7 separate regions of the Homo sapiens genome follow, and all the other regions are linked to region 5. Evidence: fine-mapped expression QTL. A gene starts in region 5. Each other region holds a variant in brackets. All regions are shown on one strand. Distances are from middle to middle. Region 1 has its middle 170 kb from the start of POMZP3. Region 2 has its middle 51 kb from the start of POMZP3. Region 3 has its middle 200 kb from the start of POMZP3. Region 4 has its middle 53 kb from the start of SPDYE17. Region 5 holds the start of UPK3B (uroplakin 3B). Region 6 has its middle 190 kb from the start of SPDYE17. Region 7 overlaps LINC03009 (long intergenic non-protein coding RNA 3009).

What was found. PIP is the estimated chance that this variant, and not a neighbour inherited with it, causes the effect.
Region 1: its variant is the best candidate, but not a certain one, in a credible set for the expression of UPK3B in whole blood (TOPMed, PIP 0.79).
Region 2: its variant is the best candidate, but not a certain one, in a credible set for the expression of UPK3B in whole blood (INTERVAL, PIP 0.73).
Region 3: its variant is the best candidate, but not a certain one, in a credible set for the expression of UPK3B in tibial nerve (GTEx, PIP 0.88).
Region 4: its variant is the best candidate, but not a certain one, in a credible set for the expression of UPK3B in monocytes after R848 (Quach 2016, PIP 0.70).
Region 6: its variant is the best candidate, but not a certain one, in a credible set for the expression of UPK3B in monocytes after Pam3CSK4 (Quach 2016, PIP 0.89).
Region 7: its variant is the best candidate, but not a certain one, in a credible set for the expression of UPK3B in transverse colon (GTEx, PIP 0.80).

The regions. Positions count from the first base shown.
Region 1 is chr7:76,797,607-76,801,675 of GRCh38, forward strand. No RefSeq gene overlaps it. Among named protein-coding and RNA genes, the nearest start is that of POMZP3, 170 kb to the left of the region's middle. The variant C/T (reference allele first, on the strand shown) is at 2,219.
Region 2 is chr7:76,675,776-76,679,844 of GRCh38, forward strand. No RefSeq gene overlaps it. Among named protein-coding and RNA genes, the nearest start is that of POMZP3, 51 kb to the left of the region's middle. The variant C/T (reference allele first, on the strand shown) is at 2,142.
Region 3 is chr7:76,820,961-76,825,029 of GRCh38, forward strand. No RefSeq gene overlaps it. Among named protein-coding and RNA genes, the nearest start is that of POMZP3, 200 kb to the left of the region's middle. The variant CAT/C (reference allele first, on the strand shown) is at 1,628.
Region 4 is chr7:76,977,613-76,981,681 of GRCh38, forward strand. It overlaps the pseudogene DTX2P1 and the pseudogene DTX2P1-UPK3BP1-PMS2P11. Among named protein-coding and RNA genes, the nearest start is that of SPDYE17, 53 kb to the right of the region's middle. The variant G/T (reference allele first, on the strand shown) is at 2,129.
Region 5 is chr7:76,508,955-76,513,023 of GRCh38, forward strand. It overlaps UPK3B (uroplakin 3B), which reads left to right and starts at 1,598. Exons shown (of 6, transcript NM_001347684.2): 1 at 1,598-1,783; 2 at 1,949-2,098; 3 at 2,703-2,928. The coding sequence starts at 1,699. LOC124901675 (a long non-coding RNA gene) reads right to left here and starts at 1,779. Exons shown (of 2, transcript XR_007060388.1): 1 at 1,570-1,779; 2 at 1-1,154. RefSeq lists a silencer at 1-185 and enhancers at 1,063-1,635, 1,636-2,208, 2,962-3,613, 3,614-4,069.
Region 6 is chr7:76,843,546-76,847,614 of GRCh38, forward strand. No RefSeq gene overlaps it. Among named protein-coding and RNA genes, the nearest start is that of SPDYE17, 190 kb to the right of the region's middle. The variant G/A (reference allele first, on the strand shown) is at 2,237.
Region 7 is chr7:76,555,409-76,559,477 of GRCh38, forward strand. The region is part of intron 2 of LINC03009 (long intergenic non-protein coding RNA 3009); the gene reads left to right. Among named protein-coding and RNA genes, the nearest start is that of LINC03009, 8.1 kb to the left of the region's middle. The variant A/G (reference allele first, on the strand shown) is at 2,495.

The DNA of each region.
Region 1 (4,069 bases), 290 kb after region 5:
TTCTAACTCTTACCTGTCAACATTAGACAATTCAATCTGACTTCTTGCCTTCCTACTCCAATAAAACCATTTTTTCCAAGTCACAAATGACTTCCACATAAATCTAAAGAGCATTTTTCAATTCTCATCTTACTACACTCCTCAGCAGCATTCCAGACTCTTAATCATGCCTCTTTCTTGAAATATCACGTGGCTCTTATGACTTCATACTCTCCTAGATTTCCCCCTCTCTCTGCAACCACATCTCAAGCTCTTTCAACAGCTCCATTGTTTCATTTAAGCTGTAAACATTGGGATTGTCCAGAACTTTTCCCTCACTCATCTTATCATCTCTTCTCTACTTACTACTATCTGTAATTGACCTCATCCAACTTTGTGGCATTAAATACAATCTATTTGCTTACAGTTCCCAAAGTTCTATCTCTAACTAAGATTTCTCTTTTTGAGCACCAGACTTTATATCTGACTGCCTTCTTGACTGCTCTACTTGGATTTAATCTGAATGAAACTAAACTCTCAAAGAACCCCAACAACCTTTTCCTCACTCACCCTGCTCATCTTGGGAACCCATCTCCTCACAGTTGTTCACATCGGAAATATAGGAGTCACTCTTGATTTATTTTCCTTCCATCAATTTCTAAATGAAATGCTTCTGTAGAAAATTGCTTTTACCTTCCAACTACATCACTAATTCACTTTTTTTGTTTTTTAACATTTTTCCCTGTCACCGCTATAGTCTAAATACTGTCTTCTCCAGCATGGAATATTTCAGCAGTTTCCTAAGTCGTCTTTTCCATTCATGCCCTCCCAATTATTTTTTTTTTAATCTAGAAAGCATCTATAATGAGCAGTAAAATGTTAAACCCTGAGGATGTCACTGTCTGGCTTATAATTCTTCAGAGCCTTCCTACTGAACTTGTAATAAACTTCACTCTCCTAAACTTGCCTCCATGTTCCTCAGTGATCCAGACCTGCTGATTTCTTTGTTTTTATCTTGTGGCCCACACTCACTCAGCCCCAGCAGACTCCCCTGGCTATTCTCCCCATATGCTGTTTCCTCCATCTAGAAAGCTGTGCCCTCTACTCTTCATATCCAGGCTTCTTCTCATCCTCCAAGTGTCATCTTACATGTCAGTTTCCCAGAAGAACCTTCCTGACAATCCAATCTAAATTAGTTTGTCACTCACCTTTTTGTAGTCTCTATCATACTATTTTTCTTCATAGAGCCTATCACAGCTTGTGTTGTGTGTGTGTGTGTTTTAACAACCACACATGTCTAGTTTAAACAATCATACAACTAGTGCCTAACAATTTACCTGGCAGTGAAAATGCTGCAGTCCCCACCATCATAATCATTAAAGATAGACTAGTGTTGTATTAACACGGATGATCTGTATACAGTATGGACAATAAGCATGCATAAGGTCACAGTAGAAGTTTGGATAACTGGTATCAATCATAGGGTAATTTGAGAATATAGTGAAAGCAAAGCAGAGAGGGAAAGTATAGAAGAAAAGGGAGGACTATGGTATGTGGGCAACCCTGGGGATCAAAGTGAAAATAAAGAAGATGCAGTAATTCACAGAAAATCAAACCCAAGGAATAAAAAACTAGATTCAGGCATGTTTTAATATACTGGAACATCTAGCCCAGTGTTTCAGGATGGATGTAAAACATCACTTCTGAAATAATGCCGACAATTCTGTTCAGTCTGTTTAATTAGCTTGTTAAATTCACGATATTCAGTTTAGATCATGGTAGATCTAAATTAGGGAATGCTCTGGAGGAAATACCATGAGTTGAAAAAAATCTCCTCTCTCCTGATAGGGATCTGCCTTAAGCTACTGAAGGTGCCAGGGCCCTGGAGGAATCCTCAATGTCTGTGGTAAATGTTTTGGTGGGCTAGGTAATACCCAGTTCATATAGCCAAGCAGTTTGAAGATTGAGCCCAGCTCAGGTGGTGGACCCTACTTAGCCTAAACCTGTAATGGTCATCCCTCAAGATTTCACATTTAAGCCATGGAAATTGGCTAAAGGAGTAAGCATGTGACCTTATTTGGGCCAATCAAATGAAAGTAAAAAATTTGGAGGGATTCTGGGAAATGTTTCCTTATTAGTAGTTGAGAAACACAGGAAGGTATAATATTCTTCCCTCAGACTTTGTTGCATGCAGATGTGAGGTCAGAGACTGGTTACCACTTTAGGATAAAACCAGTGC[C/T]CAGAGGAAGGGAGAGCCAAGGGAATTTCAGGGGAAAGAGACTCATCACCAGAAAGAGCAACCCTAAATCAGGCCTTCTTTAGACTCCCAGTTAGGAGGGCAATGAATATTTTTGTAGGTTTAGCCAATTTAAATTTGACATTCTCTTATTTGCTATAGAAAGCATCTTAACTAATAAAATGTCCAAGAAATACATGTATGAGGAGGGAAAAAAAAACACCAGGTAGGCTGTTTATAAAGGCAAATTTTGGAAGGTGGCAGGATGATCTGTTATCTCCCCACACTCCAGCCTTTGGGTTACAGTGGGGAGAAAGCTGCTGATAGTTTCCTGACCTCAATGGTTCAAGCTGTAGCAGAACTAGAATGGGCCAGGTAGTGACTATATTTCTCTCATGTTTGCTGAACAAGGACACTTTATTACCCTAACTTTCAGTGGACATTTTTAATTTTCCTAAATGAAGAAAAAAATGCAAAAAAAGAAAACACACATGTAAGTTTAACCACATTCAATAAGCATAGCACTTGTCATCAGATAATTGTAAGACATTGTAAAAATAATTCTAATGGCACTTATAATAACAACAACAATAGAAATATCAACAATAATAGCAAACATTTAGATAGGCCTTACTATGTGCTGGACACCATTCTAAACACTCTCAATGTAATTAACTCCTTCAGTCTGCATATGAAGTAGGTATTACCAGTTTGTTAAAATTACTGATAAGGAAACCAAGACAGAGGAAGTTAAATGACTTGTCCACGGTCATACCTCCATTAAATGGAAGACCCTGTTTTCAAAATGACCATTGTATTCTAGAAGCTAGGGCTTTTAAGCACTAACCAAGATTGTCAGTTATTGTGGGTATATAAATTGAAAGAGATGATGAAAAATTGCTTTTGTGTTCAGGGAGCTCACAGTTTGTTGTGCTCTCTGTAAGCTCAGCCAGTAATAAGAATACTTGCTTCCAGTTTTAAATACAGTAGAGACAATGTCTATATTATGTTATGTCATACATTCCACAATATTTTTGTGACTGTTGGCGATTTCTTATTGATTGCTTTGTCAATATAATTTTATATTTATGCCACCCAAAACCACTTCTCATTTTCAAGCTACATTAAAATAATAAAGGACATAAACTGCAATAAGCATTTCTAGGGGATTAAATATTTTCATCACTAATTTTACCCTATAAGAGCATGATACATGCTTCATTTAAAGTTTTAATTACCAACAAAATTTTATGTTTTATTATTCCAGAGACATATGAAGCAGTTTTATCACATGAGCCTTAAGTATCCTCTAAGAATCAGCAAAAAAGAGATTGTTTCCTAGGTCTACATAACCGATGGCTACATTATTATCCATAAAATCATTCGAGAAAACTTCATGTGTGGCAGTATGAGCATGTAGACTGTAAAATATCAAAAATGACTCTATTTCATATGCTAACAGGAATAGTCCATCATGCAGTTTAACCTGGGACATTAGATAGCTTTAAGTCTTTTAAGCCTAAGTGAAGAAGGGTATTGCATTAAAACTCCCCTCAAGCTTCCCTGCAGACACTTTGAGCATACCATCCCTATCATCTTGGAGAGTAGATGTAACTAGGTAACTTCCCCAGCTGCAGTAAACATTTATATATGTTGGTCTTCTGCTCCCAGAGGCTTCCCAAGCTGCTCTGTCAAATCTGTTAATGTAGAATAATCAAGCCAAGAAGAAAGACTGCAAGGAACTGAGTGCAAATCAAAAATGAAGCAGAGAAGACAGGAGTAAGAATGAAAATGATTAAAGATCAATTGATCGTCATACATAGAAATGGAATTGTTCACATACAAGGACTTAGA
Region 2 (4,069 bases), 170 kb after region 5:
TTATTATGTACGATTTCATATGCTTAATTTTAATAGAATAAAAATTTATATTTCATTTTCCCCATGTGCTTATTAACGATTTATATGTTCTCTTTCTTTAAACATCAGATCATATTCCTTGGCCACTTATCTATTGGAATTATAGGATTTTTTGATTGATTTCTGAAGTCTTCATTTATTAATATTGTTACTATTAATAATATTGATATTTCATCTAATGTGACCTACTTAATTGTATTAACTTTGTATTCTTTTTGAACAAGGTTCTAACTTGATGTACCAAAAATCCATTTTTACTGTAATATACTTAAAATGATAACCATCTCATTATCTTGTGATTTAATGAATTATTATTTTTATTTCTCCCTGAATTCATGTTTGAATGTTTGCATCTCATATCTTATTTTGGAATAATATATGAGTTGAGTATATAAATTCATTATTTTCTAAATAGCAAACTGATTACCAAAACAGTTTTATTAAATAATCTGTCTCCTTCTCACTGGTTTGTGATACCTCTATGACTGTAGTAGTTCTCATGGAAGATAAGGTCTAATTCTTATAAATATGTTTTGTAGTGTTCATCGAGGTCTATCTAATTTTGTTAGTACCATGTTCACTTAAGTATTATAGTTTTATAACATTTGATGTCTATTATGTCTTGCTCCTCATTTTAATTTTTTGAAAACTAGCTCTCCTCATATGATTTAACATATGGAATTTGAAATTTTAATTTCCAGTTTTTCAAAAATTATTTCTTTTATTTATAATGAAATTACATTAAATAAATAAAATAATTTAGCATGAAGATATATTTAAATATACATCCCTCTTGCTTGAAGCATGGTGTATCTATCCAACTTCTTAAGTCTGCTTTAATTCTCTCTATATTTGGTAGTTTTCATTAAATATACACTAGACGTGTTTCATTGAGGTTACTTTTAGGTATTTTGTTACCACAAATGGGAATGCAATTATAGGCAAAGCAAGCAGAAACATACGGCTTTGATGAAAGCTCTAATCTCAACACTGTCCATATATATTTGACCACATCATTAGACCTATAAAAGTTTGCATTCAGGCAATACTCCAGATTTTATTTGATCTCATTTCTTGTTTTGAGCCATCTGGCAAGTATTCACAATTATTGATGGCAAGAATTTCTCAAACTGGATCAATAAAATGTCTTCCTTCCTAAATCCCAGTGGAATACACTGAGGACTGTGGGGAAGCTGATTTACTTAAAGATTCCGACAGTTCTGTAGAGGAAGTAAGAATGGAGGAACTAAAAGCTCTGTCACAGGCTCACTGTTCCATCTATACTTTCCCTTCCTCATCTCATTCTCACCCTGAGCACCAACCACCATATGATGTAGCTGCTGTCCAAATATAAATTTCTAGTCCAGGTCCTCTGATGAACCATAGCATAAATATATCTTCACTCAGACAAGCTCAATTTGTCCAAAACTGAACTCAAAATAATTTTGCTCAAGTAGGTTACTTCTGCATTCTATATGGGCAATGGCACTACTATCCCCCCAGCTGGTTATGCCTAAAAGAGACTATCTTAGTTTTTTGTTCCTTTTTATTTCCCCAAGAGTGTAGTCTCCACGTCTCCTTAACATCTCCTTAGTGCAGAACCTCCTCTGCATCCTATCTGCTACTGCCTTGGTTTAGGGCCCCGTTTTCCCTCTCCCAGGCCTGAGCAATAGTTTCCCCACACTTCCTCCTCTATAGTCAGCTACTCCCACCATCTATCCTTCCCACTTTAGACAAAGGGAACTTTCTAAGAAGCAAATCATTGTTGTTGACTTTTTCTCCCTTCCAAAATACTTCAATGGCTCATTATTAACTTAAGGAGAAAAAGTATTCTATTTACCTGGACAACTATATAATATCTTGCGTATTACTCATCCTGCTAAGTAACCCTTAGTTAAGTGAAAGCATTTGCATTGCTAAGGTAGTAACAGGAAACAGAGTGAAAGAAAATAGTCTGCCGAGCCTGGTGGCTCATGCCTGTAATCCCAGCACTTTGGGAGGCTGAGGCAGGTGGATCACAAGGTCAAGAGATCGAGACCATCCTGGCCAACATGGTGAAACCCCATCTCTACTGAAAATACAAAAATTAGCTGCAAGTGGTG[C/T]GGGCACTACTTGGGAAGCTGAGGCAGGAGAATAGTTTGAATCCAGGAGGCAGAGACTGCAGTGAGCCAAGATGGCGCCACTGCACTCCAGCCTGGCAACAGAACGAGATTCCATCTCAAACAAAACAAAACAAAACAAACAAATAAAATAGTCAATAATCAGGCATTGAACATTCAGCTAGGAAACCTGAGGGAATCAGCACAGTTTATACCAGAATCCAGCTCCCACTCCGGGAGAGATAAGAAGAAGACTACTACTGAGGCTTAGGACAGTGTAGAGGAATGAGGAAAAGCGACCTAAAATTTTCGTGTCTGGGAGAAGAGGGAATGAGCAGTGGCTGAGGGGAGCAGGAGGTCAGCATGGAGAGAAATAAGGAGACAGTTTTGGTGGCCAGCTCAGGGGCTGTGTGAAATCATTGAATGGGAGTCTCACCAATGGCAGAAGCCAAGCCAATGCCTGATTTTTGTGCTTACCTTCAAACTGCCTGTTCCTCTTCTTCCTGTCTTCAGTGGTTTTCCATCAACAGCATGCCATTTGTGGTTCATTCAGAAAAATGGCATTCTGGCCCCATGACTTTGCTTACTTTTTATACAGGCCACTTGGCATGGCCATTCTCCAGTCCCTTTTAATGGTCCAAAACATTTAGAAGACTAAGAAACAGAGAGTGAAGTGAAATTAAGTCCTGAAAGAGCCTTGTGTATCAGGGAAATCCTCAGCACTCCTACTTGGAGGGACGGCACTGCGATTAAAGCACTTCAGTGACATGTGCATACACTTAGCTCTCCAATGTGACCTGTTCCTGTGACCTCCCTTGCTTCAACCTAGTCACCTGTTCTAGTTACCCGTAGATACACCAGGTGGTGGGAAACTTTGACAACTTCACCAGCACTCTTCCTTCTACTGAGAAACTCCCTTCCCTATCCCACATAATTTTCCAGTGCACACGTTAATCTTGCAAGATCATATCTTTTTAAAAAGTGTCTGTCTCTTACCTTGTCATACACATGTAAATAAAAAGGTGCAACAAAGTTTTTGGGTATTGACCCTCCCCACCATTCCACCCACCCACCTCCACTCACCTGTGGCTCCAGCCTCCGGAGCTTATCCATCTCTCTATTACAACAAGTACTCCTTCAAGCAAATGTTGAATAAATGAATGAAAGGACAAACAAATAAATCTGTTCTGTCAATCCTTAACAGCCAGCTGAAGGCTTAAATCAGAGAACTTAAATTGCCCCTGAAATAATCACTGCAATCTGTACTACTCTTCAGACAATTCCCTATTTCTGTCAACCTACCCCTAACTCAATATTTAACTGATTTCTAACTTTGTGTCTCAACTACGTGATGCTTTCCAAAACTAGAATTACCTTGGCAGCTAGGTTTACAGACTTCAAAGAAACCTGATGCTGCTATGGATGGAAATAGGGGGCAAGCTGGTTTGTGTGGTGAGTGCCAAGGTTAAGTAAATAGACATAGTGGAGCCAAACATTCACCTGCATTTCAATATGATCAGATTTACACACACACACACACACACACACACACTCTTAAAGTTAGCGATTTATGCTATGAGAATGAGAATATTTTAGACTTGAGGAAACTCAAATTTAATAAAACCTGTAAGATGGCTGGCTATGACTTTATGTAAGCTGAATAAACATATCTTCATTCAGACTGATACTTCTGCCTTTCTTCTTTGAGTCTCTAATCATCCAAAGCCAACTTTTCAGTTCCTGAATGCTACAAATTATCTTCTATGAAAGTCATTGTTTTGTCTATGAAGCTTATCATAACTTCAGGGAATTTCACATTTGCATTTCTGATGGACTACAGTCTAAGGTGTTAGAAAATTGGTTTCAGCTTTCCCCACCTTTTTTTTTTTCCACTGTGAAGCAGCTCATTACAAAATAGACACATTTCTAAA
Region 3 (4,069 bases), 310 kb after region 5:
AAAATCAATGCATGTTGTTGTAAACCATTGCATTTCAAGGCTGTTTGTGATGCAGCATCCTGGCTAATAAACCAGCCAGGTCTATTCTAACAATTGTAGCTCAGAGTAAAGAATGTGGGCATCTCATCAGCAGACATGATCACTAAAAAGACAGAGAAAAGATACAATGAGAAAACTATAAGCAAACTCTTGGAAATCCAACGAACAAAATAGAAGAAAGAAGAAAGATTAAGAAATTTCTAGAAACATCCTACAGTGGTCGGGAAGACTGAGATATTAAGCCTAGGAGATAAAAATGGACAGGCAGATTCATATCATGCTTAAAAAGAAACTGCAAATGATTGAGAAGTTTTTTTTAAAGTGGAACTATTTCAAAAGTAAGAAATTAGTAAAGGGACAAAGTTGTTAATGCACCATAAACAAGTGATCAAAAGCAGAAAAAAAAATGAACTGCTGTGGAAATGGACACAGTGTGATCCTATTTTTAGTGGACTACTTGAGTTTTTTAAAAAATTAGGAGGAAGGTAAAAGGTTCAGAAAATAGAAACAGAAGTGTAAATAATACTATGAAATGGGCCTAGCTGAAACAGCTCACTTTTCAAAAGAATACATTAAATGAAGAATACAGAATGAGATCCTTAAAAAAAGAAGTCAGGAAAGTATTACATAGAGTAACTGCAAAGGCCTTCTCTCCTTATAACACGGAAATTGATGTATTTGAGAATAAGGGTATTAAAAAAGATCTTTAAGAGTCTACAGGAAATAGAAGAGCTAGGACAAAGCATGGATGTCATGTAGAATATTTTATGATAAACTGCTGACCTGAGCCAATAATTCTTGGGCTGGGGAAAAAAACTGTTTCTCTATAGATAGGTGGGTGGGGGTGAGGGTGGGGAGGGAAAATTGTAATGCTTACTTTCTAAATAGATTTCAAAGGAATGCGGGAGAACACAAAGAGAACTAGCTTGCATTGTTTTTTTTAATATTAGCATTTTGTTGATAAAACAGAAAGCAGGAAGAAAAATAATGAATCATGCATATAGTAATAAAAAAGTGTGGTAGGTGATTAACGTGTTAAGAGTCAAGGGAAGAACTCATCAGAAGAGTAAAAGAAGAGAACTGAAAAGCAAAGGGGGACAATCAACAAAATGTGAACATACAGTTTATACGAGGAATGCAATCATACAGGTACCAATAACTCAGTTGCAAGGAATAATTGAAATATGCACATATATAAAAAGTACACATACTTTGTATAACTTGAAAAACATTTGAGGATCAAATAAAATAATGTATTCGAAAATATTTATAAAAAGCATGAAGTTTTCTACAGACAAATTAGTGGGTGCAATACTGAGCGCTACTCCTTGAAGGTGAACAACATAGAAATATTGTTCAGTGCAACTCAACAAATGTTTATTTAACGACTGCAATGTACTGAGCAAATTTTAGGCTCTGGTAAGACACATCAGTAATGAAGACAAACATATGCATTAACTATATCAAGCAGGACAAAGGGCTCTAAAGAGAATGAATGCAGTTCTCCAAACAGAGATCTCTGCTGTCACTATTGAATATCTTGTAAACTCTCCAGAAACGTGTATGTGCAAGCATGTGTCTGTTTGTG[CAT/C]ATATATATATGTGTATATTTTAATGCTACACATTTGAAGATACCTTATTACACTATTCATGACTTTGTGATTTTCTCTTAACACAGCAATTTGGAGATTACCCCCTTTCAGAACATAGAGAGAGCTACTTCATTTCTCCCAATAGCATATTTTATTGCATGGTTGTGCCATAATTTATTGAATTACTGGCCTTTAATGAACAATTATGCCATTTCCAGTCCTTTCTTATTCATGTAATGCTTATTCATACTGTGCTTTACATATGGGCTAATATACCTGTTAACACAAATCTTGAGAAGTGAAATTTCTGTCACCCGGCAAGTGAATTTTTAATTTTGATACATAGTGCCAAATAGCCTTCAAAGTGAAACATTCACTTATATTCCCACCAACAGTGCACAAAATTGCTTTTGTCCTCAAACTTCCTGCCAATGCCATTTATTATCAAACCATTTGATCCTTGCAAGTACAGTAACTAAGAAGCTATCTCATTGCTGTTTGAATTACAAACTACAAATCTCATTGTAGTTTAAAATACAAACCATAATGGTCTTATTATGAGCAAATATGAGTAGGTTTTTACATATTTAAAACTCTTTTGAGTTTCTCTTACTGTGAATTATCTGTCTATAATCTTGGCCTATTTTTAAAAATTAATAAGTTAGAAGAAATGAGCCAATTTTCATATATCTTGGCAGGTTTTTCCAGTTTCTTATTTTCCATTCAAATTTATTTATGGTTGTTTTAAACCATTTTGACATTTTGATCTTTTTTTAATTTTGAGATTATTGTAGATTTATTTGCAGTTTTAAGAAATAATACAGAGAGAATTCCATATACCTTTCACCATTTTCCCTCACTGGTAACGTTTTGCATAACTACAGGACAATGTCACAAGTAGGAAGTTGACACTGACACAATGCATCTACCTTATTCAGATGTCAGATTTACATTCACTTGTGTGTGTGTGTTAGTTCTACACAATGTTGTCACAGTGCAATTTCCTGTGTGCACTACTGTGGTCGAGATACAGACTTGTGTTTCATCGCAAGGATTCCCTTGCTACCCTTTTCTATTCACAGTCCCTCCTTAAGCCCTGACAAGCACACATCTGTTCTCCATCTCTATAACTTGGTCACTTCAAAAATGAATGGAATCATGGAGTCTGAATGGAATCATGGAGTATGCAATATTCTGAGATTGGCTTTTTCCACTCAGTGTAATTGTCCTGCATTTGTAAAAAAATTGGCATTTCGAATTTTGGTACTATGCTATTTAGCTTAAGGTTCATACCAAACTTTAATTGTAGATTTAAACTTTTTCATTGTCTTTCGTTTGGTAGTTTCATGCAGTTTTCCCTAAAGTGGACCTTGTATAATTTTAATAAAATTACTCTTGCTTGCTTTTAGTTTTAATTTGTTTACCTATATTTTGCTTCCTGCCTTTATTGATTTTAGATGAATATCATAATAGCACCTGTGTCATTTTGTGGTCCAAATTGGTGGTCTTTTAATGAGCAATTTTATCTCATTGATATTTACTGATATGGCAATTAGCTGTGGCATTTTATTTCAAGTTCTACTTTCTGTATTTAATGCCATTTATTTTTGCTATATTGTCTATATTTCTTGTATTTGCATGTTTTACTTTTATAATTTGGAAAGCATATTCTCTTCTTCAGATTTTCTGGTAGTAACATAATATACACATAATATACACATATAAATATATATGTATACATTTAAAGAAAGGACATGAGAAATGCACATACAATTCTGCAAAAGAACAAATAGAAAAAAGGTAAGAACACATCAAAATATTTAGTCGTAAAAGACATGAAAATTATAAGAAAACCCTTCTCTGAGAATTCAAAGAAATTTTTTAAAAAGTCTTCTGATACATATATATGTATATATGTATGTGTATATATGTACACATATGTGTATATATGTGTATACATACATGCATATATGTATGTGTATATACATGTGTGAGTATATATACATGTATGTAGTATATATACATGCATATATATGTATGTGTATATATACACATATCTATGTATATATGTATATGTATATGCATGTATATATGTACATATATATACACATATATATGTATCAGAAGACTTTAAAAAATTTTCTTTGAATTCTCAGAGAAGGGTTTTCTTATTTTCATGTCTTTTATGACTAAATATTTTTGATGCGTTCTTACCTTTTTTCTATTTGTTCTTTTGCAGAATTGTATCTGCATTTCTCATGTGCTTTCTTTCTGTTTGTCTTTGTTATTTTTGTTGTTTTTCCCCAGGCCAACTATGCATTAGAGGATAATGTTAGAAAGCACATCAGTGGAGTGAGTTAGATATTCAGGTAGCTTGCATTCAAATTTGTGTCTTGAAATGTTTCCCAACAAAAGACTGTCCTAGAATTTGATTTTTCT
Region 4 (4,069 bases), 470 kb after region 5:
TTCTCATCTTCAGGATGGTGGGTGCTAATAGGGAGGCTGAGGTGGGTGGATCACCTGAGGTCAGGAGTTTGAGACCAGCCTGGCCAACATGGTGAAACCCCGACTCTACTAAAAATACAAAAAATTAGCTGGGCGCAGTGGTGCATGCCTGTAGTCCTAGCTACTCGGGAGGCTGAGGCAGGAGAATCACTTGAACCTACGCGGGAGGTGGAGGTTGCAGTGAGCCGAGATCACACGCCTGGGTGACAAGAGTGAAACTCCATCTCAAAGAAAAAAAAATACATGCATGATGAAACACACTAAGCAGTTGGGTCAGAGGGGAATTATCAGTAGCAAGAAAGAAGCTGGGCTGGTGACTAGCACCCGGAATTTATGCTCTCTTTCTTCATGGGCCTGTGCGGTGGTACGTAGGCTGCGGGATTGACTTTGAATTCTTCCTGGCTGCCACAGCAAAGAGACAGGATCAGGTTCTTGATTCATGATGCCCTTAAGGTGTTAGGGGAAGAAAAGCAAGCGTGAGACCAGGCGCGGTGGCTCACACCTGTGATCCCAGCACTTGGGAAGGCTGAGGCGAGTCTATCCCTTGAGGCTAGGAGTTTGAGACCAGCCTGGGCAACACAGACATCATCTCTACAAAAAGTAAAAAAATGAGCTGGGTGTGGTGGTGAATGCCTATTGTTCCAGCTGCTCTGGAGGCTGAGTTGTGAGGATTGCTTGAGACCAGGAGTTTGAGGCTGCTGTGAGCCAAGATCACACTGCTGCACTCTAGCCTGGGTGAGAGAGTGAGACCCTGTAACCAAAAAAAAAAAAAAAAATCAGCTGTGGAAAAGCATCACGTGTTTCCCCTGCGCTGAGGCTGACTCTGCAGGGCTACTGATGTGCATTGGTAACTGCTCATGTCTGTCCTGTTCACAGATCTGCCGGAGGCGCTGGGCAATGACCCCGGGACTCCAGGCCAGAGGGGTCTGAAGCTGTTTGGGAAAGCAGCGGGACTCCTTGGGAAGATGGCCATGGCCCCAAGCCCTTCCCTGGTGCAGGTGTACACCAGCCCCGCAGCTGTGGCTATGGCAGGATGGGCTGGGCACCTGGCACCCCTACAGTGCCACCATCTGCAGCTTCATCGAGCAGCAGTTTGTCCAGCAGAAGGGCCAACGTTTTGGGCTTGGGAGCCTGGCCCACAGCATCCCCTTGGGCCAGGCAGACCCCTCGCTGGCCCGTTACATTATTGACCTCCCCAGCTGGACCCAGTTCCGCCAGGACACCGGTAAGACGCTGTCTGCCTCTCGCACATATCTGGGCGCCGCACCTGCTTTCCCACAGGCTCTGCGCCAGGTGTTGGGGTGATGGACGTGACTTACAGAGCTTCTGCTCTCTCCCTGCAGCACACGTGGTGGTGGGTGGGTGCAGTGAGTGGGAACATCCACATAGGTTGAGTGCAGCTCACAGTGGGAGAGGCACTGTGGGAGGCCCTTCCCCTTGTCTTGCAAAGCAGAAATGCCTGTTCCGACCACAGAGGTTGAAGGGTTCCTTTGGCCGGCAGGCCAGCATGGAGGTGGTGCGTCATAGGAGTTCAGAGGGCCCTGTCCCACCACTCAGTGGCTGTGTGCCCTGGGCAGGCAACTGCGCCCCTCTGCGTGTGTGCGTTTCTGCTTTTTGGTCTGCGATGTGTTTTGATCTTTTTTTTTTTTTTTTTTTTTTTTTTTTGAGACGGAGTCTGGCTCTGTTGCCCAGGCTGGAGTGCAGTGGTGCAATCTCGGCTCACTGCAACCCCTGCCTCCTGGGTTCAAGTGATTCTCCTGCCTCAGCCTCCCGAGTAGCTGGGATTATAGACATCCGCCACCACACCTGGCTAATTTTTGTATTTTTAGTAGAGACGGGGTTTTGCCACGTTGGCCAGGCTGGTGTCGAGCTCCTGACCTCAGGTGATCTGCCTGCCTCGGCCTCCCAAAGTGCTGGGATTACAAGCATGAGCCACCGCACCTGGACCTGCAGTGTGTTTTGATCAGTATTATTGAGAATGAGGCACCAGTTTCCTCTCGGAGCCATCCCTTACTCTAATCTGGTGGTTGTCACTGGGGGTGATTTTGTCCCCGGGGCCATCTGACAATGTTTGGAGACACTGTTGGTT[G/T]TTACAGCTGAGTGGGTGGGAGGTGGGGGTGCTCCTGGCATCTGGTGGGTGGAGGCCAGGGATGCTGCTCGCCATCCGGCAGTGCACTGGGCTGGCCCTGCAGTAAGGAATTATTGGCCCACAGTGTCACCAGTGAGGAAACTTGAGAAACTGGTTTTTCCTTTTTTTTTTCAATTTTAATTTTAGTTTTATTTTAAAAAGTATGGGTTTTTTTTATCGTGTTTGTTTGTTTGTTTGTTTGTTTTTTGTAAAGACTGGGTCTCCATCGCCCTGTGTTGCCCAGGCTGGTCTTCAACTCCTGAGCTCAAGTGATCCTCCTGCCTTGGCCTCCGAAAGTGTTGGGATTACAGGCTTGAGCCGTCATGCCCAGCCCTGGAAACTGTGTTTCCAGGAGTGTCGTAGAGTCTGTGAAAACTGTGGCTGTCAGTCAGCTCCCAAGTCATTGCCTTCACAGTGTGTGAAGTCAACTGACAAAGATAGCAGACAGGATAAATAATAACATGGAAATTGCATATCGTGGCAGAGAGCAGGAAGTGTTAATCGGGGAATGAAAGTGGCAGGTGTTGTAGAGGTCGATTTGAAGTTAGGTGGGTGTGGTGTCATGTGCCTGTAGTCCCAGTTATTTAGGAGGCTAAGGCAGGAGGATCGCTTGAGCCCAGGAGGTCAGGGTGGCAGTGAACTATGATCACATCACTGCACTGCAGCCTGGGTGACAAAGGGGTACCCTGCCTCTAACAATAAATAAATAAACAAATAGCAGCATGACTGTGTACCTACTGTGTTCCTATTTGTTTATTTTGGCGGTTGAAAAAAGAATTTGAACGTTCCCTGTATCTTGGGGATGCTAGCAGACTAACCTTTGGTTTTCCTTTGAAAACAGGCACCATGCGGACTGTGCGGAGACACCTGTTCCCCCAGCACTCAGCCCCTGGCCGAGGTGTCGTCTGGGAGTGGCTGAGCGACGATGGCTCCTGGACCGCCTATGAAGCCGGCGTCTGTGACGATCTGGAGCAGCAGGTGGCCAGGGGCAACCAGCTCGTGGACTTGGCCCCCCTGGGGTACAACTACACTGTCAACTACACCACCCACACGCAGACCAACAAGACTTCCAGCTTCTGCTGCAGCGTGCGGCGCCAAGCAGGGCCGCCTTACCCAGTGACCACCATCATCGCTCCGCCGGGCCACACAGGCGTCGCCTGCTCTTGCCACCAGTGCCTCAGTGGCAGCAGAACTGGCCCTGTATCAGGCCGCTACCGCCACTCCATGACCAACCTCCCTGCATACCCCGCCCCCCAGCACCCCCCCCACAGGACCGCTTCTGTGTTTGGGACCCACCAGGCCTTTGCACCATACAACAAACCCTCACTCTCCGGGGCCCGGTCTGCGCCCAGGCTGAACACCACGAACGCCTGGGACGCAGCTCCTCCTTCCCTGGGGAGCCAGCCCCTCTACCGCTCCAGCCTCTCCCACCTGGGACCGCAGCACCTGCCCCCAGGATCCTCCACCTCCGGTGCAGTCAGGTATCGTGGGCAACGGCCGCTCGTTTTGTCTGCCCTGTGTTTCTGCTCTTAGCTGGGAAGACTCACCCCAATTCCTGCAGATGCGGCTCCTGCCCCCTAGGTGGTCCTGCCGTGGCATCTCATTTGCATGTGGCATGTGGGTGCCGAGGTGCCGTGGCCGTCCAGAGCCTACCTGACCCCTTGTACCTGAGTCCTGGCAGTCACCACACGGGTTAGAATCTACAGTCCTTTCACTCACGATGATTAAGGGCCTCCACATGGAGCAGTTAAAGGCCTGTGGCCTCTGCTTGCGGGCTGCATGGCGAGCATTGTGCCCGAGAACACTGGGTCACTGCCTGTACACTGACTCCCGCCTTGTGCCAGGCCCTAAGGACCCAGAGACCAGAGTATCAGCCCTTACCCCTGAGCCCTAGTCTAGTGC
Region 5 (4,069 bases):
CAGGAGGTGGAGGTTGCAGTGAGCAGAGATCACGCCATTGCACTCCAGCCTGGGCGACAGGGTGAGACTCCATGTCTCAAAAAAAAAAAAAAATAGCCAGGCACGGTGGCTCACGCCTGTAATCCCAATACTTTAGGAGGCCAAGGCAGGAGATTTGCTTGATCCTCCCAGGAGTTAGAGATCAGCCTGGGCAACATAGCAAGATCCTGTTTCTATAAAAAATACATTTTTAAAAATTGGCCAGCCGGGCGCAGTGGCTCACACCTGCAATCCCAGCGCTTTGGGAGGCTGAGGTGGGTGGATCACCTGAGGTCAGGAGTTCGAGACCAGCCTCACCAACGTGGAGAAACCCTATCTCTACTAAAAATACAAAATTAGACAGGTGTGGTGGCACATGCCTGTAATCCCAGCTACTCAGGAGGCTGAGGCAGGAGAATCACTTGAACCCAGGAGGTGGAGGTTGCGGTGAGCCAAGATCGAGCCATTGTACTCCAGCCTGGGCAACAAGAGTGAAAACTCCGTTTCAAAAAAAACAAAAAAAAAATTGGCGGGGGTGCCAGGCACGGTGGCACATGCCTGTAATCCCAGCACTTTGGGAGGCCAAGGCGGGTGGATCACTTGAGATCAGGAATTTGAGACCAGCCAAGCCAACATGGTGAAACCCCGTCCCTACTAAAAATACAAAAATTAGCTGGCCGTGGGGCACATGCCTGTAATCCCAGCTACTTGGGAGGCTGAGGCAGGAGAATCGCTTGAACCCAGGAGGCGGAGGTTGCAGTGAGCCCAGATCACGCCACTGCACTCCAGCCTGGACAACAAAGGAGACTCCATCTTAAAAAAAAATTAATTAAATAAATTTTAAAAATTAGCCGGAGCATGGTGTTGTGTGCCTGTGGTTCCAGCTACTGGGAAGGCTGAGGTGGGAGGATTAACTGAACCTGGGAGTTTGAGGCTCCAGTTAGCTGTGAACTGACCTCCCTGGGTGACATATATATATTTAAGCCACTGAGCTGTGAAGGTTGTGAAGGTATGTGAGTTATGTCTTGAAAAATACACACATAGTGAGCGCCAAATCCCGGGAGTAGTGTTTAAGTGGCGGGCTTGTCAGCTGTCAAGGGCTCTGCAGCCCTTTCTCTGAATCCAAGTTCTTCTTCCTGTGGACAGGGAACCCAGGCTGCGAACTGGGAGGATGTGGCCTCGTGGGGGGCAGGGCCAGCGTGCTGTGATGGGGATGGGGCTGGGCAGGTTGGGGCTGCCTGCTACTCCCCACTCCTGACTCTGGGTGGGGACAGAAGGCAGAGGGAGGCTCCTGGCACCTGGGGCACAGGAATCTCAGGCATGTGGTCCTGAGCCTGTTTCCAAAAGCCAGACCCTCCTCCCCAGGGCGGAGAGACTGGGAGGGGCCCCAATCCAGGCTCCGGGATGGCCTGGCTGGCATCTGGGGTTCCAGTGGCCCCTCTCCCTTGGCCCTGGCAGTGGGGCTGGATACTGGCCTGCCTCCCACCAGAGTCCCCCCAGCTCCTCCCTGCTGTGGGCTGGCCTGGGAGGAAGGGGGTGGGGTGCACTTACATTTGCAGGTCTTTCCAGCCCCTGGGGCAGCCTGATTAACCAGCTTCTCCAGGGCCAAGCTGTTGGGGGTGAGGTGCAGCCCGAAGCAGCCAGACCAGCCCCTGAGCCTCCCGGGTGCTGGCAGCTGTCATGGGGCTACCCTGGGGGCAGCCTCACCTAGGGCTGCAGATGCTCCTCCTGGCGTTGAACTGTCTCCGGCCCAGCCTGAGCCTGGGTGAGTGGGGGTCCTGGATGGACGCGTCCAGCCAGACCCAAGGGGCTGGGGGCCCTGCTGGAGTGATTGGACCCTGGGCGCCCGCCCCCCTCCGATTGGGAGAGGCAGCCCCAGGGACCCCCACGCCCGTCTCCGTGGCTCACCTTTTGTCCCCCGTGGCCACAGAGCTGGTGCCCTACACACCACAGATAACAGCTTGGGACCTGGAAGGGAAGGTCACAGCCACCACCTTCTCCCTGGAGCAGCCGCGCTGTGTCTTCGATGGGCTTGCCAGCGCCAGCGATACCGTCTGGCTCGTGGTGGCCTTCAGCAATGGTACGGGGACTGCTGTGGGGCCTGGGTGAGGGTGACGGCTGAGGAGAGTGGTGGGCCCTAGGAGCCCCTCACCAGCAAGCGCCTTCAATGATTGAGCCCCTGTGGGGGCCTTTGGGAGAGTAGGTGTGGATGAATTGGGCTTTATCTAAAGGGGTAATATGTGTATTGAAAAATACACACGTAGTGAACACCAAATCCCGGGAGTAGTGCTAGTGGTGGGTTTGTCAGCTGTCAAGGGCTCTGCAACCCTTTCTCTGAATCCAAGTAGTTCTTCCTTTGGACAGGGAACCGAGGCTGCGACCTGGGAGGATGTGGCCTCCTGTGGGGCAGGGCCGGTGCACTGCAATGGGGCTGGGGCTGGGGCTGGGCAGGTTGGGACTGCCCGCTGCTCCCCACTCCTGGCTCTGGGTGGGGACAAAAGGCCAGAGGGAAGCTCCCCTTCAGGGGTAACAAAGTCGACTGGGTCTGGACTATCTCTGGGGGCCCTGAGGGAGGAGGTGGCATGGGGGGTCAGGGCTGGAGACTGGGCGAACACAGAACCCCCACTCATAAGGACAAAGCTGCTTTCTCCCCTCCCACCTCCATCTGTTCTCTCCTCCTGCAGCCTCCAGGGGCTTCCAGAACCCGGAGACACTGGCTGACATTCCGGCCTCCCCACAGCTGCTGACCGATGGCCACTACATGACGCTGCCCCTGTCTCCGGACCAGCTGCCCTGTGGCGACCCCATGGCGGGCAGCGGAGGCGCCCCCGTGCTGCGGGTGGGCCATGACCACGGCTGCCACCAGCAGCCCTTCTGCAACGCGCCCCTCCCTGGCCCTGGACCCTATCGGTGGGTGGTCCCCACCGGAGCCCTGGGACTGGGGCTGTGCTTGGGGCGGACGCATTGCTGGGACCAGGGATGCTCTCTCTAGCATCTTTCCAGGGAGGGGTCCCCGGCCCCGGTCCTCCCCTTTGCAAGCCCGGGCTCCTTCCACTGTAGAGTCAGCAACAGTGCTCACCCCCGCTGGGGCCGGGCAAGGCCCAGGAGGAGCAGGTGGGCACCTTGGGGAGGCGGGATCTTAGTCAAGGTGGGAGGGGGCAGCTTCCCCAAAGTCTAGGCCCCTGTCCCCCACCACGGGCAGATCTGGCAGGAAACTCGGGGGCCGAGTTCAGACCCAGTCTCGTCGGTATTAGGCAGGGAGCAGGAGAGGTGGCTCCTACCCGCTCTTACAGATGAGGAAACTGAGGCACAGGAGGTCAAGTGGCCTGCCAACATCGGGGTGGAGCCGGGATGGGGAAGCAGGCAGTGTGTCCAGGTCAGGACTGTCCGGACACAGGAGGAGGCGGGGTGACCTCAGGAAGACCAGGCCCAGGGGAAGCCGGGAAGGCAGGGCGTGGTGAGGCTGGAACAGCACCCCGCTCCGCCCAGCCCCCTTCTGCCCTCTCACCCACTCTCCAGGTCCACCCTCTGCCCTCCCCGCTGCCTCACCCTGGCTCAGCCTTCCAGCTCCATGCCCCGCCCCATCCCCCGCAGCCACTCTTTTCAATGCCAACCTGCCAGGTCCTTCCCCGCTTCCCAGGCCTTGCAGAGCTCCCAGCCCTGCAAAGAGACAAACCGAGGCCCTCTGCGGGGCTCCTGGTGCCCTGGGTCCTCAGGCTGCTGGTGATTGAGCCCCCTGCCCCCGGCTACTGCTGCCCCTCTGGGAGGCCTGTGACCCCTGCCCCATGTGCCCTGCTAAGCCACCTTCACCTGCTCTTTTGGCTTGTGACATTTAGGAACCAGGGCCCCTAAACCAGCATCCCCGGCCCAGGTCTGGTGTCTGGAGAGCAATTGCTCGGGGGGATGAGGGGTGGTGGCACAGGCCAAGTGGCTGGAGACATCTCAGGGGATTCTCAGAGCAGGGCCAGGCCATGGGCTGCTGCTCTTGACGGGCACCCCCACTCCACATCCATGGGAGGGCCCCAGAGGAGCTGCCTGGGGCTTGGCCCTG
Region 6 (4,069 bases), 330 kb after region 5:
ATACTCTTACCATGCAATCCAACAATCACTTTCTGTGGTATTTATCTAAAGGAGTTGAAAACTTATGTCCACACAAAAACCTGCACACAAGTGTTTGTAGCAGCTTTACTTGTAATTGCCAAAACTTGGAAGTAACCAAGATGCTTTTCAGTAGATGGATGGATTAATAATTCAGCCAATGGAATATTCAGTGCTAAAAAGAAATGAGCTGCCAAATCATGGAAAGACATGAAGAAAGCTTAAATGCATATTACTAAATGAGAGAAGCCAAACTGAAAAGGCTGCATATCCAATGATATGACATTCTGAAAAAGGCAAACCTATGGAGACAATAAAAAATAAAATCAGTGGTTGCCTGGGGAGGGGGGCAGGAATGGAGCATAGAAGATAGTTAAACTACTCCCTATAATTCTATAGTGGTGGATACATGTCATTATACATTTGTCCAAACCTATACACAAGGAGTGAACCCTAAATTAAACTATGGACTTTGGGTGATAATGATGTGTCAATGTACGTTTATCAATTGTCACAAATTTGATACTCTGGTGAGGGTTATTGATAATATGGGAGGCTATACATACACAGGGGCAGGGGAAATACAGGAAATCTCTGTACTTACCTCTCAATTTTGCTGTGAACCTAAACTACTCTAAAAAATACAAAAAAAAACCTCTTTCTAAAAAAAAACTCTTTAAGTTGAGGAATGTATCTTCTTCATTGTGTCCCCGGTAGCTAGTACAGTGGCAGAATTGATGGCTTTTAAGTATAGCTAATGACTGAAGGAGCATGTTATAAAATATTTATTAAAGCCTGTTCTATAATATTTGGCAGGTAATAGACATTTAATAATTATTAGATCATAGCTGATGATTTGACTCTTGACAGAACTAATTGCTACTTACATTTAAATAATGCTAATTAGAATGACAGGCTATTGGAAAGCATGCAGAAGAAACATATGGAAGTTAATAAACCTAGAGTCAAGGCCTGCCCTTCTCACAGTTATTCAACCCTAATAAATAGCTTTCTCTTGCTGACTCTCAGTTTCCTCACTTATAAAACGAGCACATTACCTACCTCATAACGCTGTTGTGATGTTGTGATGACTAAACATTTCTTACAGTTACTAAGTGGCTCTATGATCACTTCAATAAAACTATGTGCCAAGTTTCTATGTAATGATAGCCTGAGAATCCCCAAAAGTATTGGTTGCTTTCCGACCAGTCAATAATAGCTTACTAATTTATCTGGGATCTCATGTGACTTGCTTCGTCTGTTCCAATAAATTTAGCATAAATTCAATTTGTTCAAAACCCACTACTACTACTACTATCTAACATTTCTAGTATGGCTACTTTGTACTAGGTTCTTTTCTAAGTATTCCATGCATTCATTCATGGAAACACTTTTATTATTACATTTTGCAGTTGCTAAAACTGCATTTTACGTAAGACAAAATTATTTTCCTGTGTTTATACAGTTTGTGAGAAGCAAAAGCAAGTTGTATACCCAAGTTTGCCTGATTCCAGAGTCAGGTTAGTTATCCACCATATTATAACAACACTCAGGCAAAGTTTACATGTCTAGTTAATGTCAATAATGGTATAAACAGGAATTAGGTAATAGGCCATTTTTGGCTCTCTTAGTGAGATAGTAATTAAACATTTTAGCTGAAATTTCTCTTTACTATAACATACCACTTGATAAAGCATACATTAATTCTAGTCTGGTTTTGCTGTTGAGAAATTATCTACATTTACTACCTTATTATAACATATTATTCTTTTCATTTTAAAAATGGCCATTAGGTTTATCTTACTTATAATACAAAGTGTACTTTATTTATTTTTTAACTTTTATTTTAAATTTAGGGGTATATGTGCAGGATGTGCAGGTTTGTTACATAGGTAAACTTGTGTCATGGGTATTTGTTGTACAGATTATTTCATCACCCAGGTATTAAGACTTGTATTCATTAGTTATTTTTTCTGAGTGTATTTTAATAGAAAACTAAACACTAATGAAATCACTGAAGATATCATAGGAATATAAAACCCTCAAGAGATGATTTAGAGTTTTCCATTTTCAGTTCATGGAAGGCAAGGTTTCCACTCAACAGAGAAAGTACAAAATGGCAGTCATCAGGACTAAAACATTACAACTGTAGAAGTTACACAATGTAAAGCTTCTGATATTATAGGCACAAATTACATCATGAAACCATTTCACTAGA[G/A]CACATTAGTAAACTCAGTTTCCAACGGATTTCCCTTGGGGCCCTCGCCGTATTGAAACAATCACTATCTTAAGAAGAAAAATGTGTTCATTTGTTCCCATGAACCAGCACCTAGCATACCTGTCTTCCACATCATAGGTATCCAATAAATGTTTCCTGAATAAGCAAATGAAGAATGAATGAATGAATGAATGAGGAAATAGGGAATTCAAATTTCTTCCAGTCTTGAAAGGATTGATAGTCTATGTGGACAGAGCATAGATGTAAATAGATTTTTAAGAAAACAAGGTGCAGACATGAATATTTAAAGAACTTTCTAAGGACTACAACAATTGATAGAAACTATCTCAGAGATCTGTGGGGCAGGATGTAACTCCGAAGGCTTGCTATCCACTTATAACCTCTTCCACTGGCTAAGGGAGACAGTAGGGACACACTGCATAGAAACAGGAAGAAAGCAATAATTAATGTTTTTTAAAGAAAACCATTAATAGTTAATTAAGAATTAAGGGCCCATGGTCTCTGAGGTTGGAGTCATTTCAAAGTACTAGAAAAAATGAGCATAGGGAAGAAATCATATTCATAAGTACCTTGCTCTAATATTTCCAAATGTACATCAAGAGAAACTGTTGCAACTTGCTGACTTTAAAATTCTAGCCTTCTCTGGCTTCATGAAAAACTTGCTAGCCTCCTGCAAAGTTACAGTTCAATCTGCTTCACATTGGGTAAAACAATACCCAAGGTACAGAGGTGCTGAAAGGCTTAGTTATTGTTAGTTATGGGAGTTGACAATCTTGAATAAAAAGCACTCTTAGTGCAAAGTAGAATTGTAATCAGTGTCATTGTCATTTGAACCACATTGTTTGCAGTGTAACCAATTGTGAAACCAACATAAATTCAAAAACTAAATTAGAAAAACAGATGCTTCTTTTGTTTGGAGATTTTAGTCCCATCTAGCCATATTGTATATCATTTTCTTTGACTTACACCACATAGAAAGAAAAATCAGAGAGCATAATACAAAAATGCAGAAACATATTTAGCAAATTTGTGGATTTCATAAGTCATTTATAAACTTTGGATTTACAAACAATTTCAAAGGCTTTTGAAAATATTTTTTTTTTTTTTTTTTTTTTTTTTTTTTTTTTTTTGAGACGGAGTCTCGCTCTGTCGCCCAGGCTGGAGTGCAGTGGTGGGATCTCGGCTCACTGCAAGCTCCGCCTCCCGGGTTCACGCCATTCTCCTGCCTCAGCCTCCCAAGTAGCTGGGACTACAGGCGCCCGCCACTACGCCTGGCTAATTTTTTGTATTTTTAGTAGAGACGGGGTTTCACCGTTTTTTTAGCCGGGATGGTCTCGATCTCCTGACCTCGTGATCCGCCCGCCTCGGCCTCCCAAAGTGCTGGGATTACAGGCGTGAGCCACCGCGCCCGGCCTGAAAATATTTATACACACAAGAATCTCTATAATACTACATATAATTATACCATGGCTTTTCCAAAGCATATTCCAGAGATAGACTTTCGGCAGAATATCAAGTTTCCTATTTGGGGTTTGTCTTGGAGACAGTGAACAATTTATTTTTCAGTCTCTGTCTCCACTGATGCTTGTGATTAAGATAAATACATTGGTGCAATGAGAGAAAAGAGATTTATCTTGTACATAATTTCTAAATTGACTTGTGACATTAGGAAGTCGATCTACCCAGAGTGGAATTTGTTTCTTCAGTTCACTGAAGTTCAGTTCTTCAGTTCACTAAGTTCCAACTAATTTTTGTTTCTCCACAGTCTCAACTATTTTTTAAGGAAATTGCGAAGTTCACTTTTAATGTTTC
Region 7 (4,069 bases), 46 kb after region 5:
CAATGATCTTTTCTCCATATCTAGAAAATATCACCAACTTACAGTGCCGTGTTATGGTATAGGCTCTTATTTCCACTTCCTTTCATCACAGTTCTATTTATTTCTCAATACACAGTTGAAGATCAGTTGAAATATCAATTTCAGCATAACTTCCCATACTTGGGCATAATTTAATAGCTTACCAGACAGTAGCATATAATGTAGTGACTTGGGAGCCAGACTTCCTGGGTTTGAATACGGGATGAAAATTCACCAGTCTTTTGACCTTGGGAAAGTTACTAAACCTTCCTATACACCAGTTTCCTCATCCGTGAAATGAGGCAAATTATAGCACCTACCTCTTAGGGTTGTTATAAACCTTAAATCAGTTAGTACAAGTAAAGGCCTTAGAACAGCACCTGGCACATTGTAAGAAATGTCTAAAGGTTCATTGCTATCATTTATTCATTTCCACATCTCATTCCTAAAATAAAAGGTGTTATAAAATTGCCAGTATAATTAGAAAAAAAATGGGAAAATGTGTTAAAGAAAAATTATAAACAAAATTGAAGAAAATGTAGAATAATACATATATATCTTAGGAGGAAAGCTCTTAAGCATATAGAAAATTAAGAAACTATGAAACAAGATTAACATAGTTGACTATACACAAACTTTAATTGCTAATACAGGCATACTTTGTTTTATGCTTTGCTTTATTGCACTTCACAGAATTTTTTTAGAAATTGAAGTTTTGTGGCAAGCTTGCATCAAGCAAGTCCATCAGCACCATTTTCCCAAAAGCCTGTGCTCACTTTCTGTCTCTGTGTCATATTTGGTAATTCTCACAGTATTTCAAACTTTTAAATTATTATTATATCTGTTATGGTGTTCTGTGGTCAGTGATTTTCCATGTTACTATGGTAATTGCTTTGAGGCATCACAACTCATGCCCATATAAGATGGCAAACTTAATTGATAAATGTGTATGTTCTGACTACTCCAAAGACTGGCCATTCCCCATCTTCCTTCCCCTCCTCAGGCCACCCTACTGCCTAAGACACAACAATATGGAAACTAGGTCAATTAATAATCCTCCATGGCCCTCTAAATGTTCAAGTGAAAAGACTAATGAAGAAGGCATGTTGAAAGTTGAGATAGGCTAAAAGCTAGGCCTCTTGTGCCAAACATTTAGCAAAGATATGAATGCAGAGAAAAAATTCTTGAAGGAAATTAAAAGTGCTACTCCAATGAACACATCAATGATAAGGAAGCAAAACAGGCTTATTCATGATATGGAGAAAGTTTTAGTGATCCGGATAGAATACCAAGCCAGCCACAACATTCTCCTAAGCCAAAGCCTAATCCAGAGCAAAGCCCTAACTGTCTTCAATTCTGTGAAGGTTGAGAGAGGTGAGGAAGCTTCGGAAGAAAAGTTTGAAGCTAGCAGTGGTTGGCTCATAAGGTTTAAGAAAAGAAGCTGTATCTGTAATATAAAAGTGCAAGGTGAAACAGCAAGTGCTAGTGTAGAAGCAGGAGTGAGTTATCCAGAAGATCTAGCTAAGATAACTGATGAAGATGGCTACATTAAGCAACAGATTTTCAATGTAGACAAAACAACCTATATTGAAAGAAGATATCATCTAGGACTTTCATAGTAAGAGAGAAGTCAATGTCTGGTTTCAAAGCTTCAGAGGACAGGCTGATGTGATTCTTAGGGGCTAATGCAGCTAGTAACTTCTAATTGAAGCCAATACTTATTTGCCATTCCAAAATCCCTATGACCCTTAAGAATTGTGCAAAATCTACTCTGCCTATGCTTTATAAATGGAATGACAAAGCCTAGATGATAGCACGGTATACAAATATTTTAGGCCCAGTGTTAAGACCTACTGCTCAGAAAAAAGATTTCTTTCAAAATATTATTGCACATTGACAATAACTTAATCACCCAAGAGCTCTGACGGAGAGGTACAGGGAGATTAATGTTTTCATGCCTGCTAATAAAACATCAATTGTGCAGCCCATGGATCAAAGAGTAATTTTTACTTTCAAGTCTTATTATTTAAGAAATATATTTCATAATGCTATATTTGCCATAGATAGTGATTTCCCCAATGGATCTGGGCAAGGTACATTGAAAGCCTTCTGGAAAGGGTTTACCATTCTAGAAGTCATTAAGAACATTTGTGATTCATGAGAACAGGTCAAAAATCAACATTAACAGAAATCTGGAAGAAGTTAATTCCAACCCTCATAGATTACTTTGAGGGGTTTTAGATTTCAGTGGAGAAAGTCCCTGCAGATGTTGTGGAAATAGCAGGAGAACTAGAATTAGAAGTAAAGCCTGCCTGGGAGGGGAAGGACACGCACCGGAGCCTGTTAGGGGATGGGAAGTAATAGGAGGGAGAGTATTAGGACCAATACCTAATGCATGCGGGGCTTAAAACCTAGATGACAGGTTAATAGGTGCAGGAAACCATCATGGCACATGTATACTTATGTAAACAATCCC[A/G]CACTTTCTGCGCATGTATCCAGGAACTTAAAGTAAAATTAAAACAAACAAAAAAAGAAGTAAAGCCTGAAGATGTGACTGAATCACTACAGTCTCATGATAAAACTTTAGCAAATAAGGAGTTGCTTCTTATGGATGAGCAAAGAAATAAGTTTATTGAAATGGAATCTATTCCTGGTGAAGATGCTGTGAACATTATTGAAATGATAACAAAATTCTAGAATATTTGATAAACTTTATCAGCAGCATCAGAATTTGAAAAATTTGACTTGAATTTTGAAAGAGGTTCTACTGTAGGTAAAATGCTATCAAACAGCATCACATGCTATGGAGAAATCTTTCATGAAAGGAAGAGTCAGTAGATGTGGCAGACTTCATTGTTGTCTTATTTTAGAAATTGCCACAGCCACCCCATCCTTCAGCAACCACCACCTTGATCAGTCAGTAGCTATCATTGTCAAGGCAAGGTCCTCCATCAGCAAACAGATTAAGACTGGCTTGAAAGCGAAAGTGATCATTAACATTTCTTAATAAAACATTTTCATTAAGGTATGCATTTTATTTTTTAGAAATAATACTATTACATAATTAATAGACTATAGTATAGCATAAACATAACTTTTATATGCACTGGAAAACCAAAAGAATCATGTGACCTGCTTTATTGTGATATTTGCTCTATTGCAGTGATCTGGATCCAAATTTGCAGCTTCTGCAAGGTATGCCTGTGTAGGGAAAGGCAGCACAAACTAAACTACAATAGAAGCGACAGAGCACAGAGCAAAAGAGTATACTTTTAACATATGTGTTAAATAAATGTTTAATACACACATCAAATACAGAACCTCTAGAAGTCAATATAATTTAAAATGCAAACACATAAAATAATAAGCAAAACTCTAAATATTCAACATAAATGATATAAAAATGTCCTATAAACCTTTAAAAATACTTATTTAAATAACCTGCAATAACTTTGCCCCTTAAATAGGGTAAATTTATATAGATCAGCACTAATTTAATTTTGGCATGTATTTGAAGAAATGATAAATATTACACATTGTTTATGATGGTATAAATTGCAATATTATTAAAAGGATACATGGAATCTATTAAAATTTTTGGAAGTGGATATATCTTTTGATTGATTTGATTGATACAGCAGTTCGTCTTTTGTGTGTCTTATACACACATATACATAATATACACTTAGGCAAACACATTTCAGACATTTGGATTGGGATCCTGGCTGCTGCTTCAACCTCATCTAATTTCCTATTACACCTCCTCTCTCTCCCTTTTTGTACATTTGTCCCTCTCTCTGATTTCCACCATCTGTCTTTCCAGTTTACTTTCTCTAGTTCCAGACAACAAAAATTCTTTAATCCCACTGGGATCTCCAATCAATTGATTCAATCAACTTTTCATTATGCCTCAACCCTTTGATCTTCTAATCTAACTTCTCATAACTCAAGATAAATTCCATGGGAAATCCTTAACAATCACTTCCACATATACATCCTTAACTGCCTGCCTCCCTCTTATTGCTTTTACTTGTTTGGAAAAACCACAACT